Linked DNA regions of Homo sapiens. The protein of the gene in region 1 purifies or fractionates together with the protein of each later gene. This does not show direct contact. Each region holds a gene or a part of one and is shown on either strand. Other genes may lie near its edges.

Region 1 (3,500 bases):
ACATATTTTCAAATTTAAAAAGATTAAAATGTACCAAAGCATCAACTCACTTATGAAGTACCTAATTAATTTCTGTTTTATTTTTATCCTAACCATGAGACTACTAAGGAAATATCCATTTTGGTTTAACAGACCAGGATATTCTAAAACTTTACTACTTTATAACTAGTTATTTTTGGTTGAGGACAGAATATGCAGATTCCACCCTATCACCAAAAATAATAATCATACTGAAGGTACATTCAATAACACTCTAAAATATGTATCACATCAGAAGCAAAGTACTTACTGCATCTTCCACATCAATGCATAAATGTGTTCCAGGTTCAGCCTTATTCTCAAGTTCATTCATTTTTTGCATTTCACTGTACAGACTACTCAGAGTTTTGTATGCTTCACGGCAGTTTTTGCATACTTCTGAATAATTTTTTGTCTGTAAAAGACTATGTGCATTCCCCTAAAATGACAAAGGCACATGTAATATATACAATAAACATTATATACAATATCTCTTTAATGTAAGCTATTTACGCTTCTAGAAGACGGGAAACAATATGGTGTGTTAAAGTGCTAAGCTGTGATGTTGAGTAGGTTACTAAATCACTCTGAGTCTCAGTTTTATCATCTATAAAATAAAACGACCTCTACCTGTATTATAAGTCCGAAGGATTAGAGACCCGGTATGTGAAGCAGATGGCAAACTGTTTGGAACTTTCTAGGTGCCTCTAAATTTTCAAAACTGCTGCATTAGCTAATGTTAACTGAGGATAACAATAATTCATATGCCAAATGACTAGTAACTAAATACAAAATTTCCTAAATTATCTCATCATCACAAACCCTCACTTATCTATCCTACTCTCACTGAATAAATAAAATAGGTTCCTGCCTATGCTGACTTGAACACCATAGTTTATCTTACTGAGACAGAACTTTTTAAATGGAAAGGGAAAAGGCACCAAAACTGCATCCCCACTCAACTCTCTTATCACAAGGCTCATAATCCAGGCCTTTCTAGTCAACAAAAAGGGCCAAATACCAAAGAATTGTATAACCTAAAATGAGGATAGTGGAGGTACATAAAATATTATGCTACTAAATCTCAATATTTTGTACTTCTAGACTGACACTTGTCTTTTCAAGAATAAGTTTGCTAAACAGTCAGTTCACACCTTTGCTTTCTATGCCCTTTATTCTTTACTTTGTAGTATGAAGAAAGAATATTAACTGAACATTGGGATGAAAGAGAAAAGAGAAAAATCAAAGTAATTACACTGATGTTGGCCCAACAATGTTACCCTCACCATCTGCTTGACAGAAAAACTAAGTCTCTCCTTAGTCTGCTACAAGAAATAGCCCATTGCTTGTTTTTCACAGAACAATTGTGCACTTAGTTAAAAATTGAGCACAGGGCTGGGCGCGATGGTTCACACCTGTAAACCCAGCACTTTGGGAGGCCGAGGTGGGCGGATCACAAGGTCAGGAGATCGAGACCATCCTGGCTAACACGGTGAAACCCCATCTCTACTAAAAATACAAAACTTAGCCGGGCGTGGTGGCGGGCACCTGTAGTCCCAGCTACTTGGGAGGCTGAGGCAGGAGAATGGCGTGAACCCGGGAGGCGGAGCTTGCAGTGAGCCGAGATCGCGCCACTGCACTCTAGCCCGGGTGACAGAGCGAGACTCCGTCTCAAAAAAAAAAAAAAAAATTGAGCACATAATCCATTTAACTAAAATTGTGCACATAATCTAGATGGGGAGTAATTTAACCTTTTTTTTTTTTTTTTTTTTTGAGACACGGTCTTGCTATTTTGCCCAGGCTAATTTCTAACTCCTGGGCTCAAATGATCCTCCCACCTCAACCTTCCAAAGTGCTGGGATTACAGGCAGGTGCCACCATACCTGGCCACAATTTTTATTCAAATTTAAAATGCACATATCTTTTAATAATGTGAAAGTTGCAGACATTAGGATGAAATCACCTTTTGACAGACCAAGACAAAATAGAGACAAAAAGAGTCCTTGTTTCCAAAGACTTTCTAAAAACCCCACAAGAAATCCTTTCACGCCCTTCATTGCAACTCCTGCTTTCACATGGTTTATCACTGCCATTCTTTAGGACTGCAGTAATTCAGATAAGATGCACTCAAAAGAACACTTGCCCAGTAATGGCATCGCCACCAATGAACTGACAACTTGGCTTTGAGCCTCAGGAACCAATGAACTCAGTTTCCAAGCAGCTTGTGTGAACCTCTCCCTTTTTGCTAATAAAAGCTTCCCTTTACCCTTCCCTCACTGGATGTACTGGTGGTTTGCCAGTGCATTCCAAATTACCATACTTCTTTCTTATTCCCTAATAAACTCATCATATTTGGAGATAATTTTCTCTAGTGTCTTTTTCTTAGGCTGCCAATATAGTAATTCTACTTCTAGAAATCTACCAAACTCATACAAGTACTCTAAGTTAAATGAAAAGAAGACTGTTTATGGTGTACAATTTAAAACTTATTATTTCCAGAATTTTCCATTTAATATTTTTGGACTGCAGTTGGCCACAGGTAACTGAAACTGTGGAAAGTGAAGCCATATATAAAAGGGATGACTTTATAGAAAAATTGCTATTTGAGTGTTACAACACACATCAGTCCACTAAAGGCTCTGAAGTCCTGTAGTAAAGCATTTCCCAACCTTAATGGAATACTAAACCCTTTCTGATAGGACATCTATTAACATGCTGCAGAACAAATTCTGAGAAATGTTCACCTAATTTTTTTTATTTTATTTTTTTGAGACAGAGTCTCTCTGCAACGCCCAGGCTGGAGTGCAATGGCACGATCTCAACTCACTGCAACCTCTACTTCACTACAGGCGTGCACCACCAAGCCTGGCTAAGTTTTGTATTTTTAGTAGAGACAGGGTTTCACCATATTGGCCAGGTTGATCTCGAACTCCTGACCTCAAGTGACCTGCCTGCCTTGGCCTCCCAAGGTGCTGGGATTATAGGCATGAGATACTGCACCTGGCCCAATTTTTATTATTCTCAAGGAAATTCATAATTCAGTGTTACCACATTTATTACAGAAGAAATCATACATGCTTATACCCTAAGCATGTGTACATCTACTATGGGGATTACTTACTTGTTATGTAAGTTTCAAAACTACATTTTAACCAGAGTTCCAACCTCGTCCTTCACCACGACCGGGCAAGTTCCAATACCAAAATTCAAGAGTCAGAGATAGAGATGGCAATAATCTACAAGGTTAAGATTCTTAAAGCTACCTTTTATTATCATAATTCAATACTCAAAGTTATCTTACTAAACAGTGCTTTTTAAGGTAGGTAAAACATACTTAAGCAAATTTCAGGCAAAGAATAAACTTCCTATAGACAGAATCATACTACACTGCAAAATACCTACGTAAGTCAGATTGAAAACCATTGTGTTTTAATTAAACAATCACACACCTCAATCAATGTTTTCACAATCATTATCTCACC
Region 2 (3,500 bases), on another chromosome or scaffold:
TAATCTGAGTTGATAATGTGGGTGAGAGAATTGGTCCTTATATACCTTCTTTGAAGTAATGGCTTAGGCAGCCCCTCAGGTAGGCTTTCGAGTAGGAAAGTTACCCAGGTACTCAACTGTGATTCACTTGTGTTTTGCTTGCCAATTTTCACCCCATGGTACTATGTCATGTTTTGCTCTTTTTATAGAAAGAAATTCAAGCCATGAGTCAGTGCAGCCATCCCAACGTAGTGACCTATTACACCTCTTTTGTGGTCAAAGATGAACTTTGGCTGGTCATGAAATTACTAAGTGGAGGTAAGTGGATTTTGTTGTTGTTATTTATTTGCTTGTTTTCTCTCCTTTTGTTGGAACCAGCATATTGGAGAAGACTTTAGATTGAATCCTTTCTCTCCTGTGTTTGAAAGTTTGTTTGGTTTCTCATTGCCTAGAGGATAACGTCCAGATTGCTTCACATTGACCTTCAAAGCTTTTCATAATTTTGCTTAACTTCCGAGAATGTGTATGTCCTCTTCTCCAGGTATGAAATGCCCGACCTTCTAGGCTGAGAGGCAGCCCCCGGAATGTATTATGTGCTCTCATGCCTTTGCCCCTGACCTGTCCTCTTTCTCAGCCTTGCATCTCTCCTTTGTTTTCCATGTGCTCAGGCCTAAAAGGTCACATCCTCTCCACAGTCACCGCTTACTCTTCAAAAAAGTTAGCCAGTCCTTTCTCCTTGAGTCCTTTCTTTTTAACATTGTTCAGGTCCTTAACACATTGCAGTTTGCTGAATTATCTCAGTGCCATTTATCAGAATGTTCTGTGATGATGGAAATGTTCTGAGGTGCTGCTATCTACTTTTTACTAATCCCATGTGACTCTTAAGCACTTGACATGTGGCTAGTGTGACTGAGGGACTGAGTATTCAATTTTAATTAACTTACATTTAAATCACCTTGTATGGCTCCAGTATTGGACAGTGCATATTTAGGTTGTGGACTTTGTGAAGATTGTCTAATGCACTTTGAATTCATTGAACTTGGCGCCCAGTAGGTGCTCACTAAATGTGGTTTCAGTTGACATGGGGAGAAATGTGTGCTACATATTCACTTGCAGTGTTGATCAGAAATGGCACTATTGTCATCCTATTGTTGCATTTGGGAAGGGAAAGTCACTTCCTCTCTCTAGCTTCAGATCCCTGCAGTGATGCAAGCCATTGACAATTTAATTTACAAGGTGCTTTCACATCCTGTATTTTATTTCTTTTAATCTTCTAACATCACTATCAGAGAGGGAATGATAATGATAACCGTTGCCTTTTTTGAACACTTACTCTGTGGCTAGATCCTGTCCAAGGCAATTTACTGACCTTATCCCATTTAATCTTCACAGTGTCCCTGAATGGCCTGTGTCACCATCCCTGTTTTTCAGAAATTACACCAAATTTCAAGGGAGTTTAGCAACTTGCCCAAGGTCACACACATAGTAAATGTTGGTGCTGGAATTTGTGACTTTAACATCTGTTGACTTAAAAATTTGTATGCTGTGCTGCAAGTATTTACACCTTCGTTTTGCAGACATGGGCACTGAAGCTTAGAAAGCCCAAGTGATTTCCTTGGGAACACCCAGCATACCCACATCTCTGGTGTGTTCTCTTTCGAGGGCTTGATTCTCTGGGTATCTTTCTGAGACATGAAGTATGGTTTAGGATCAGAGGAGAACATTTTGCTGTGCCTGGACAACCCAAAACTAGCATAGCAGAATTTATATGATAGAGCCTATTTTAATCTGCAGATGTCGAGGGAGGTGTTTTAATGTTTTCCTTTTTTAAAAAGGAAACTCTCTTGGATCAAGCAGAAGCCCAAAAATGAGATGACGAAGGCATTGTAATTGGCTTGGGTCTGCTTGTGTAGGTCTCGGTGGGGAGCCCTGGGGAGCTTAGTTCTGTTCTGTTTTCAGTCTTCCTCAGTCTTATTAGTCATTGTTTCCTTGAGTGCCTACTTCAGTTTTTAATTAAAAAGAAAAAAAGAAAAAGGAAAAGAAAAAGGAAGCCTGCCAGAGCTGGACTGCAGTATTGAGTGCTGGGACTGCCCCTTTATTCAGCAGAGGAACTTGCGCTTTGCCAACAAGATGATCTTAAGGCATTCTCTTTTTGTGGGGTTCCACCAACTCTGAGGAAATGAGAAATTCTGATGACTTGAGACCCTGAATAGTCCCAAATGCTCTGCTCAAGCTGAAGATTTTACCTTTTGCTTTATGAAGCTGAGAATCTTCTGTTTTCTGAGGAGGATCTGACAGAAAATTTCTTTGTCTTTTTGAGTCCAATTTAGCCTCTCTGGGCTTTAGGTAAGAACAGATTTTAAACAGGTTTCCACAGGTAAGGACGTGGGCAGACGTGGACTCTTGTTCATTTTTCTTTTAGCAGGACAGAAATGCATGCATGCCTGGTATGGTATATCCTTATACAATAAAAAGAAAATGTTTTTGGAATTATCATTTTTTAAATGACACAAAAATCTAAGAGTCAACAAATAAACAGAGGTTTTTTTTTCCTCTGGGGAAAAATATGCATTTGTTTTCTTCTATTTCATTACATTGAATCTCTTAATGAGGGGCAGGCAGCTGTATCTGATGGGGAAGCTCAATCCTCTTAGTTAATTATAAAGAGCCTAGAGCCAAATTCAGGTCCTGAGGTAAGCCGTTTGTTAACTCTTCAGAAATGTCAAACCCCCAGGTAATTTTGGCTTTTAAACTGACCCAGGGGTTTGGAATACTAATTAATATGTGTTGAAACATGAATTCACAGTGCCAAGGATACTAATCTGTATATGGTAACAAAGTACTAGGTATCTGTTTGTTTATTGTAAGTGTTAGTGCCTCAAATATATCAGGTAAATGAAATAAAGATCAGCCAGGCTCAGTGGCTTATGCCTATAAGCCCAGCACTTTGGGAGGCCAAAGGTGGGCAGATCACTTAAGCCCAGAAGTTCAAGACCGGCATGGGCAACGTGGTAAGACCCCATCTCTACAAAAAATACAAAAATTAGCCAGGCGTGGTGGCACGTACTTGTAGTCCCAGCTACTTGGGAGGCTGAGGTGGGAGGATCGCTTGAGCCTGGGAAGTTGAGGCTGCAGTGAGCTGTGATTGCTCCACTGCACTCCAGCTTATATGACAGAGGCAGACTCTGTCTCAAATAAAAAAAGAAAAAGAAGGAAAGAAAATAAAGATCAGGTAGTGTCACAGGAAGGAATCTTCCGGTTATAAGCAGAGGTCTAGAAACAACATACTTCTTTCCCCCTCCCACCTGTGATTTAGGTCCTCAAAGAGTGTGTTTTTTTTCTCTCAGCAGTTCACTTCTGCCTTTTCTCCTGGCCTCATACTCCTTTCTTTGTCAGTTCAGACTTTTTGCACCCTCTTTGGAGGGTTGCTCTTAGGAATTTTTGTGAGAAATACTGTAACCAGAAAAGGAACCAGCCATGGAACGGCCATGAACAGCCTTCTGGTCCCTGACCCAGAATCC
Region 3 (3,500 bases), on another chromosome or scaffold:
GTGTCATCCTCCAGCCCATTGAAGGTAGTTCGGAGATCCCGGGTCTTAACCTGCCCTTCCCCACTGCATGGAAAGTGCTAGATCCCATGTCTCCCCTTGGGCCACTGAGGCCTGATTCTGGTCATAGACCTGGTCCAGCTCCAACTGGAGGCCACTGGGCATCTTTAGATATGTATTTAACTGATGGCTGCTCTCTCTAACATGGCTTCATCTGTCCTTCTGCATCAGTTGTGACCAATCAGAGCAGTTTTGCTGCCCAGGGGACATCTGGCAATGTCCAGGGACATCTTTGGTTGTCACAACTTGAAGGGAAGAAATGTTGCTGGCGTGGAGTGGGCGGAGGCCAGGGATGCTGCTCAGCACCCTGCAGTGCCCAGAATGGCCCCGCCACAGAGGGCGATCTGGCCCCAAATGGTGATGGCGCTGAGGGGGAGAAACTGTGAAGTACACGTCCCATGGTCACCTTGGGGACAATCTGGGAGCGGTCAGAGTGAACTTCCAGGAAGTGGTTGGCCACACAGAGCCAAACTAGCAAGACAGCCCCCACAGATCCCTGGCCTCTCGCCCTGGCTGCAGGCATCATGGGCAGTGATTACATCAATGCCAACTACGTGGACGGCTACCGGTGTCAGAACGCGTACATTGCCACGCAGGGGCCGCTGCCTGAGACCTTTGGGGACTTCTGGCGTATGGTGTGGGAGCAGCGGTCGGCGACCATCGTCATGATGACGCGGCTGGAGGAGAAGTCACGGGTGAGCCTTGGACCCCACGGCCCTCAAGCCCCTGCCAGTCAGCCTGTCCCTGCTGACACCTGTTCTCTTGCCCGATACAGATCAAGTGTGATCAGTATTGGCCCAACAGAGGCACGGAGACCTACGGCTTCATCCAGGTCACGTTGCTAGATACCATCGAGCTGGCCACATTCTGCGTCAGGACATTCTCTCTGCACAAGGTGGGGCCCAGGCTGGGGCTGGGGGCTGAGGGTGGAGGAATGTGTTGGAAGGGAGGCAGAGGGCCCCAGCTTCTACCCAGGGAGCTCCCCATGGGACAGAGAGAAAGCGGAGCGTGTCTACCCAGGCTGACTACATTCTCATGGAACCCACTTCCGTGGAGGGGGAAACTGAGGCTCAGAGAGGACACTGCTTGTTTCCACCCACGGCAGGAGAACAAAGCCGGCAGAGCCCAACTCAGCAATGAGCCTGATTTCTTCTTGCCTTTACTCATGCCCCAGGTCCTCTTTGCCCACTTGTCCTCTGGCCTCACCCAGCTTGAGCCTATGATGGGGGCCTCAGCAGGGCCCCAGCCCTGCCTTCAAGGAGTCTCCAGACAGAGATGGACAGATATTGGCAGCCCTGCAAAGTCAGGACTGGGATGGAGAAGATCTTTTAGATATGTATTTAACTGATGGCTGCTGTCCATAGTGCGGTTCCATCTGTTTTTCTCCATCTGTGGTTCTGAATTAGGACAATTCTGCCATCCAGGAGACATTTGTTATTGTCATGATGGGGAGGGGAGGTGCTACTGGCACCGTGATGTATCCCCAACACCCAGCCAGGTCATCTCACCGTCAGGCACCTGCTTGACCTAAGTGCCAGAAAACTGAGTACATGGACAAGAGTGAGAATTCTTGGTTCAATCACACACATTAAGCATATGTTATACATTAAGCATATGTTATATCTCACTCCCTAACCTGGACACAAGCACACAACAGGGACCTAAACAGACAAAACGTTCTGCCCTTGGGGGATTTAACAGTCTAGTAGACAAGACACAGACCACAACTATGAAATGTCAAGAAAGCTTACATGTCAAAGGAGAAAAATAAAGTGGAGGAGAAAAACAGTGTTAGGGACCTGGAAGAGGGTATGATGGGGAGATTTGGGGGGACAGCATTTCAGGTAAGAGGGTGCAGCCTGGGCAGAGGCCCTGGGGCAGGACCGTGCCTGGTCATGCAGGATCCTGTGGGCCTTGGGGAAGACTTTGGCTTTGACCCTGTGGGAGGCAGGAGCCATGGAGGGCTGTGGGCAGAGGAGGTACCAGATCTGACTCAGGTGCCCTCTGGCTGCTGCAGGGAGGACAGACTGGGGGGCTTGGGTGGGAGCCAAGGTCTGCGGCAAAGAGGGTGGTGATAGGTCTAGACCAGATTGGCCTGCATGGAGAACATGGAGCAGGTGGATTGGGATAGACTTTGAAGGCAGAGCCGACAGTCCCGGGTGAGGTGTTGGATGTGAGAGGGGAAGAGTTAAGGGTGACTCCCAAGCTGTGGCCAGAGTGCCCAGAAGGTTGGAGCCACCTTCAGCTAAGACGGGGGAGCAGGTTTGGGGAGAAGGCCAGATACAGTTGGCCACGTTGTGTGTGAGGCGTCCGCAAGACTCTACTTGGAAACCGTCCAGGGCCAGCTAGAGCCCAAGTCAGGCACTTGGGGACATGGTGACTGGGAGGCGCAGACATGGGTGTTTTTTTTTTTGAGATGGAGTTTCACTCTGTCACCCAGGCTGGAGTACAGTGGCGCCATCTCAGCTCACTGCAATCTCCACCTCCCAGGTTCAAGCAATTCTCCTGCCTCAGCCTCCCAAGTAGCTGAGATTACAGGCATGCACCACCATGCCTAGCTAATTTTGTATTTTTAGTTGAGACGAGGTTTCTCCATGTTGGTCAGGCTGGTCTCGAACTCCTGACCTCAGGTGATCCGCCCACCTCGGCCTCCCAAAGTGCTGGGATAACAGGCATGAGCCACCACACCCGGCCACTTGGGCATCTTCAGCACATGGGTGGCAGGTTGAGCCGGAGTGACAGGTGACATCCTTGTGGTCCCCAGAATGGCTCCAGTGAGAAACGCGAGGTCCGCCAGTTCCAGTTTACGGCGTGGCCGGACCATGGCGTGCCCGAATACCCAACGCCCTTCCTGGCTTTCCTGCGGAGAGTCAAGACCTGCAACCCGCCAGATGCCGGCCCCATCGTGGTTCACTGCAGGTACGTCCACCCCACTCTGCCCCATCCGCTTCCCCCCGGTCCCCGCAGCCCAGCAGCCCCTGAACGCCACGTGGCTGTCCCTGCAGTGCCGGTGTGGGCCGCACAGGCTGCTTTATCGTCATCGACGCCATGCTTGAGCGGATCAAGCCAGAGAAGACAGTCGATGTCTATGGCCACGTGACGCTCATGAGGTCCCAGCGCAACTACATGGTGCAGACGGAGGACCAGTACAGCTTCATCCACGAGGCCCTGCTGGAGGCCGTGGGCTGTGGCAACACAGAAGTGCCCGCACGCAGCCTCTATGCCTACATCCAGAAGCTGGCCCAGGTGGAGCCTGGCGAACACGTCACTGGCATGGAACTCGAGTTCAAGGTGCCAGCGGGGTGGAGGCTGCTGTGGGCGGGGTGGGGAGGAGGCCCAAAGAGCCGAAAATCAGGCCCGCCTCGAGCAATGGGGACTAGAAGGTGGTGGCAGGGTGCCCCTACCTACCTATCCACCATTGGTGCTCCAGCTGAAAGCATAGC
Region 4 (3,500 bases), on another chromosome or scaffold:
TAACCTTGGTGATTAGATAGTTGCCTGAGTATATTGATAGGATCATGAAGATAGTTGTACATCATCAAGTAGGTTTCTAAGGAATTTACCATATCTGCTAAGGAATTAAGATTAGGAAGTTTGGCTGAGAAGTCTAGGTTGGCAAGGTAAGAATTGATAAAAAGTAACTCTAAGGTTAGAGGGTTTCTTGTTTCTGAAGGACCTTATAGAAAATAATCTTAAGAAGTTTTCTGCTTTGAGAGGAACTCACTTAAACCATTCTAGATAGAGTCATTTTATTTTAAAATAGAAAATGCAATAATGTCTTTCAGTCTAGTATGTAGAAAACATTTGTCATTTGTAAGTTTTATTAATTTTTAATCTGGTTTTAATCTTAAAAGTGTTATGGTAATTTTTTTATGCTGTGTTTTGTATAAAATCCATTAGTATATGATTCCCATTCCTTTGCCTCTACCAATGTAAGAAAATCTGATCACTTGATTTAAGAACATACATTCCAGAGTAATGGGATGGTTCCCACCTTAACATTAGTGAATTGAAGACCAGGACTTTACCAAAGGAGTTCATTTTTATTTGAGCACAGCCTTTGCATTTTTGTGATTCTTCTCTCAAATTTCAAACTTGCATGGCCAACTTCCTGATGAGTATCTCTATCTTGCTGGCACGTGGACCCATCAAACTGCTGTTGAAAGAGAACTTATTTATTCTTTTGTTTTCTTAATCTTAATAGCACTACAGTTTTCTCAGTCACCCTCCCAAGCCAGACATCTGGGAGCAGAGATGGCATATGCATGTCATTTACTGCAATTCTCCCTCTGCCCATGTTAGCTCAGCAGACACAGCCCTCTTTCCTTCTGAATCTTGACATGAACATCAGCTTTTAAAACAGACACAATCTCATTGTCACCAAGTCCTCCTAAGTTTTACTTCCTAAATTTCTTAAATCTACCCTTACTCTGCCTGTGTACTGTCATTGCCTACTTCAAGCCTTTACAGCTGCTTAACATGTGGATTAAATCCATATGATAATTGTGAGGTAGATAACTGTTACTACTAGTTTTACAGATGACAAAACTGAGACACATTAGGTAACTTGCTCAAAGTCATTTTTTGCTTAATCTGCTGTAACTGTCTCTTAACTGGTACTTCCAGCTTTCAGTCTTGGCCTCCACATACTCATTTTTCTTTAGTTGCCAGAGTCATCTTTTTAAAATGCATGACTTCAAATAGCATGCTATCCGCTGTGATGTGCTGGGCAGTACATTTTATTGATGCAGCCAAACTTTAATACATGTTTCAAAGAAATCTTACATAAATTTTTAAAATATAAGGTTGGTTTTTATTTTGTAAAAGCCTGTTCTATCTTCTTCTTAAATTCTGTTTTTTGAGTTAGCTGTTAAATTAGATGAAATTTAAAATGTTTTGTATCTGTTAATGCCAGCTTTGTTGAAAAGCAAAATAGGCGCCCCATACTATTCTGCTTTTAAGGATTTTTTTAAAAACTTCAATGTTTGTTTAAAATAAAGCAACTGTCTTTAATAATTTTATAATAATTTATAGTTTTGAGAGTATGTTTGCGTTTATTTTGCTTAATGTTCTAAATCATATTTATTTTATGGTAGGGCAAGCTTTTGTAAGTGCCGTGTTTACTCAGATGATTTTAGAAAGTAAAGAATTAGCCACATGTCCTATTTATTTAATTTTTCTTTTTGGCAACTTAAATTTTGGCTTGAACCACGTTATTGCCATGGTAAGTTCTGTACTTATGGTAGTTTACGTTTTAATCTACTTTTTTTGAAGACTCAGTTAACCACTATTGAACAATCTTTATTGTTTTAAAGGCATGTAGGCTTATTTCTCTCATACTAAAGTGACTCAGATTATTGTCCTTTTGGTGTCATTTGTGCTTTAGAGGACTCATTCTGTTTTTCATTTTGCTGTTGCTTGTTATTTGTTGGACCTTCCTGCAGTAACTGCTCACTGCAGTGCAGCATAGAGGTTAAGAGGGTTCACTTTGTAGGCAAACTGAAGTTAATTCTTTTGTGCCTCAGTTTTCTCATCTGTAAAATGAAGATAATAGCTCATTTAATCCTATTGAAGTACTAATAGTACGGTGTCTAGCAAATAAGCACTCAATAATTACTGAAAGAAAATAATGTCAGGTACTGTTTTTTCTAAAAAGCTTATGCTACCTTCTTAAGCAGAAATAGTGAACATGATTTCATGAGATGTGGCTATTGTACTGTAAAAACCTCAGGGTCTTTTCATTCAACAACTTTTTATTAAGAATACACCTGCTAAATTCATACACACACACCCACCCCCACCCCCACTCACTCACATCTATGCTTATATTTATGCTCAGTGGCTCTACTAATTAGTTTAGGCTTTTCCTTTCACACTTTGCTTTTCCTTAAGACTTTACATCTTGCTGCTGTTGCTTATGGCTCTGCTTCTGCCAAATTTGTTGAGAATTCTAACAGCCAAAAAAGCAAGTATAACTGAGAGAGAGAGCTGAGGTACTGATTTTGAACAAAGTACACAAGATTTAATACACAGACTTCGTTACCTCTTGACAGCTCATTGGTTACTTTTTTAAAAAAAACTTCTTGTTTTACAGCTATATTTTGAGCAATTGATATTGCTAGACAGTTCTTACATAATATGGTGCTATTAGTGAGTTTGTGTTATTTTCAGATGTTGTTTAGGGTGAGATTTTCAATCTTTAAATTTCCAGATGGAGATACACGTGAATTAGAGCGAACAAAACAATATGTAAATGAAGCTTTTCAAGCAGGGGCTATGACATGCCTAATTTGTATTGCTTCGGTGAAGAGAAACCAAGCAGTAAGTTTTTCTCCTTATTTATATTAATGTATCTCCCCAAAATACCTTAGTTTGCCTTACAATACTTAACGATTTATTATTCTTTTGTTTACTTATGTTTAAAAATGCTTCATTTGAGAATTTTGTATATGAATTGATCTTCATTTTAAAATCTGTAATTAAAAAAAAATTACCACTAAATGAGTATCCAGTATTTTTAGCACTATTGATATAACTTAGTTGTCTTCAGTTTTAATGCAAATGTTGATTTGATAGAACATTTTTAGCATCTGTACTTTAGAGATTCCCACAAAAGTGAAATGTTAAATGTACTATATTTTATTACTTTTGGAAAAAGATACGGTCCCTATCTTCAAGAAAGTAGAACTTGGCAGTAACACTTATGGCTTAATTAGTTAGCGTATCCTGTGTTAAAGGCATTTTGGGAAGTGGTGAGGGTCAGTCGGGAGAGAGATTCAGACAAAACTCATGTCCTTGGAGGAGATATGGCGTAGTGATAAAGATATATATGTGTAAATTTAAAAGGGCATTAATGAAGCAATTAAGAAGTGATTACTGAATGTGAAAGACTCAACATTTAGACCTTAGATTAATTCACTGCTATTATAGCAGCATTGCCTAGAGAAAGCAAATCAAGTCAGATGAAATAGTTT

What was found. Proteins that work in one complex are often made in the same cells at the same time.
Region 2: the proteins of OSTM1 (region 1) and STK39 purify together in Homo sapiens (affinity purification with mass spectrometry; one large-scale study listed by BioGRID and IntAct). This does not show direct contact.
Region 3: the proteins of OSTM1 (region 1) and PTPRS purify together in Homo sapiens (co-immunoprecipitation; one large-scale study listed by IntAct). This does not show direct contact.
Region 4: the proteins of OSTM1 (region 1) and NFXL1 purify together in Homo sapiens (co-immunoprecipitation; one large-scale study listed by IntAct). This does not show direct contact.

What each region holds. Positions count from the first base shown.
Region 1 is NC_000006.12:108,050,742-108,054,241, forward strand, and holds part of OSTM1 (osteopetrosis-associated transmembrane protein 1 precursor), read right to left. Parts: intron 458-3,500; coding exon 290-457; intron 1-289. UniProt on the Homo sapiens protein: Required for osteoclast and melanocyte maturation and function.
Region 2 is NC_000002.12:168,164,096-168,167,595, reverse strand, and holds part of STK39 (STE20/SPS1-related proline-alanine-rich protein kinase), read left to right. Parts: intron 1-188; coding exon 189-297; intron 298-3,500. UniProt on the Homo sapiens protein: Effector serine/threonine-protein kinase component of the WNK-SPAK/OSR1 kinase cascade, which is involved in various processes, such as ion transport, response to hypertonic stress and blood pressure.
Region 3 is NC_000019.10:5,211,813-5,215,312, reverse strand, and holds part of PTPRS (receptor-type tyrosine-protein phosphatase S isoform 1 precursor), read left to right. Parts: coding exon 1-24; intron 25-576; coding exon 577-752; intron 753-832; coding exon 833-952; intron 953-2,821; coding exon 2,822-2,976; intron 2,977-3,062; coding exon 3,063-3,348; intron 3,349-3,500. UniProt on the Homo sapiens protein: Cell surface receptor that binds to glycosaminoglycans, including chondroitin sulfate proteoglycans and heparan sulfate proteoglycan.
Region 4 is NC_000004.12:47,904,584-47,908,083, reverse strand, and holds part of NFXL1 (NF-X1-type zinc finger protein NFXL1), read left to right. Parts: intron 1-2,737; coding exon 2,738-2,847; intron 2,848-3,500.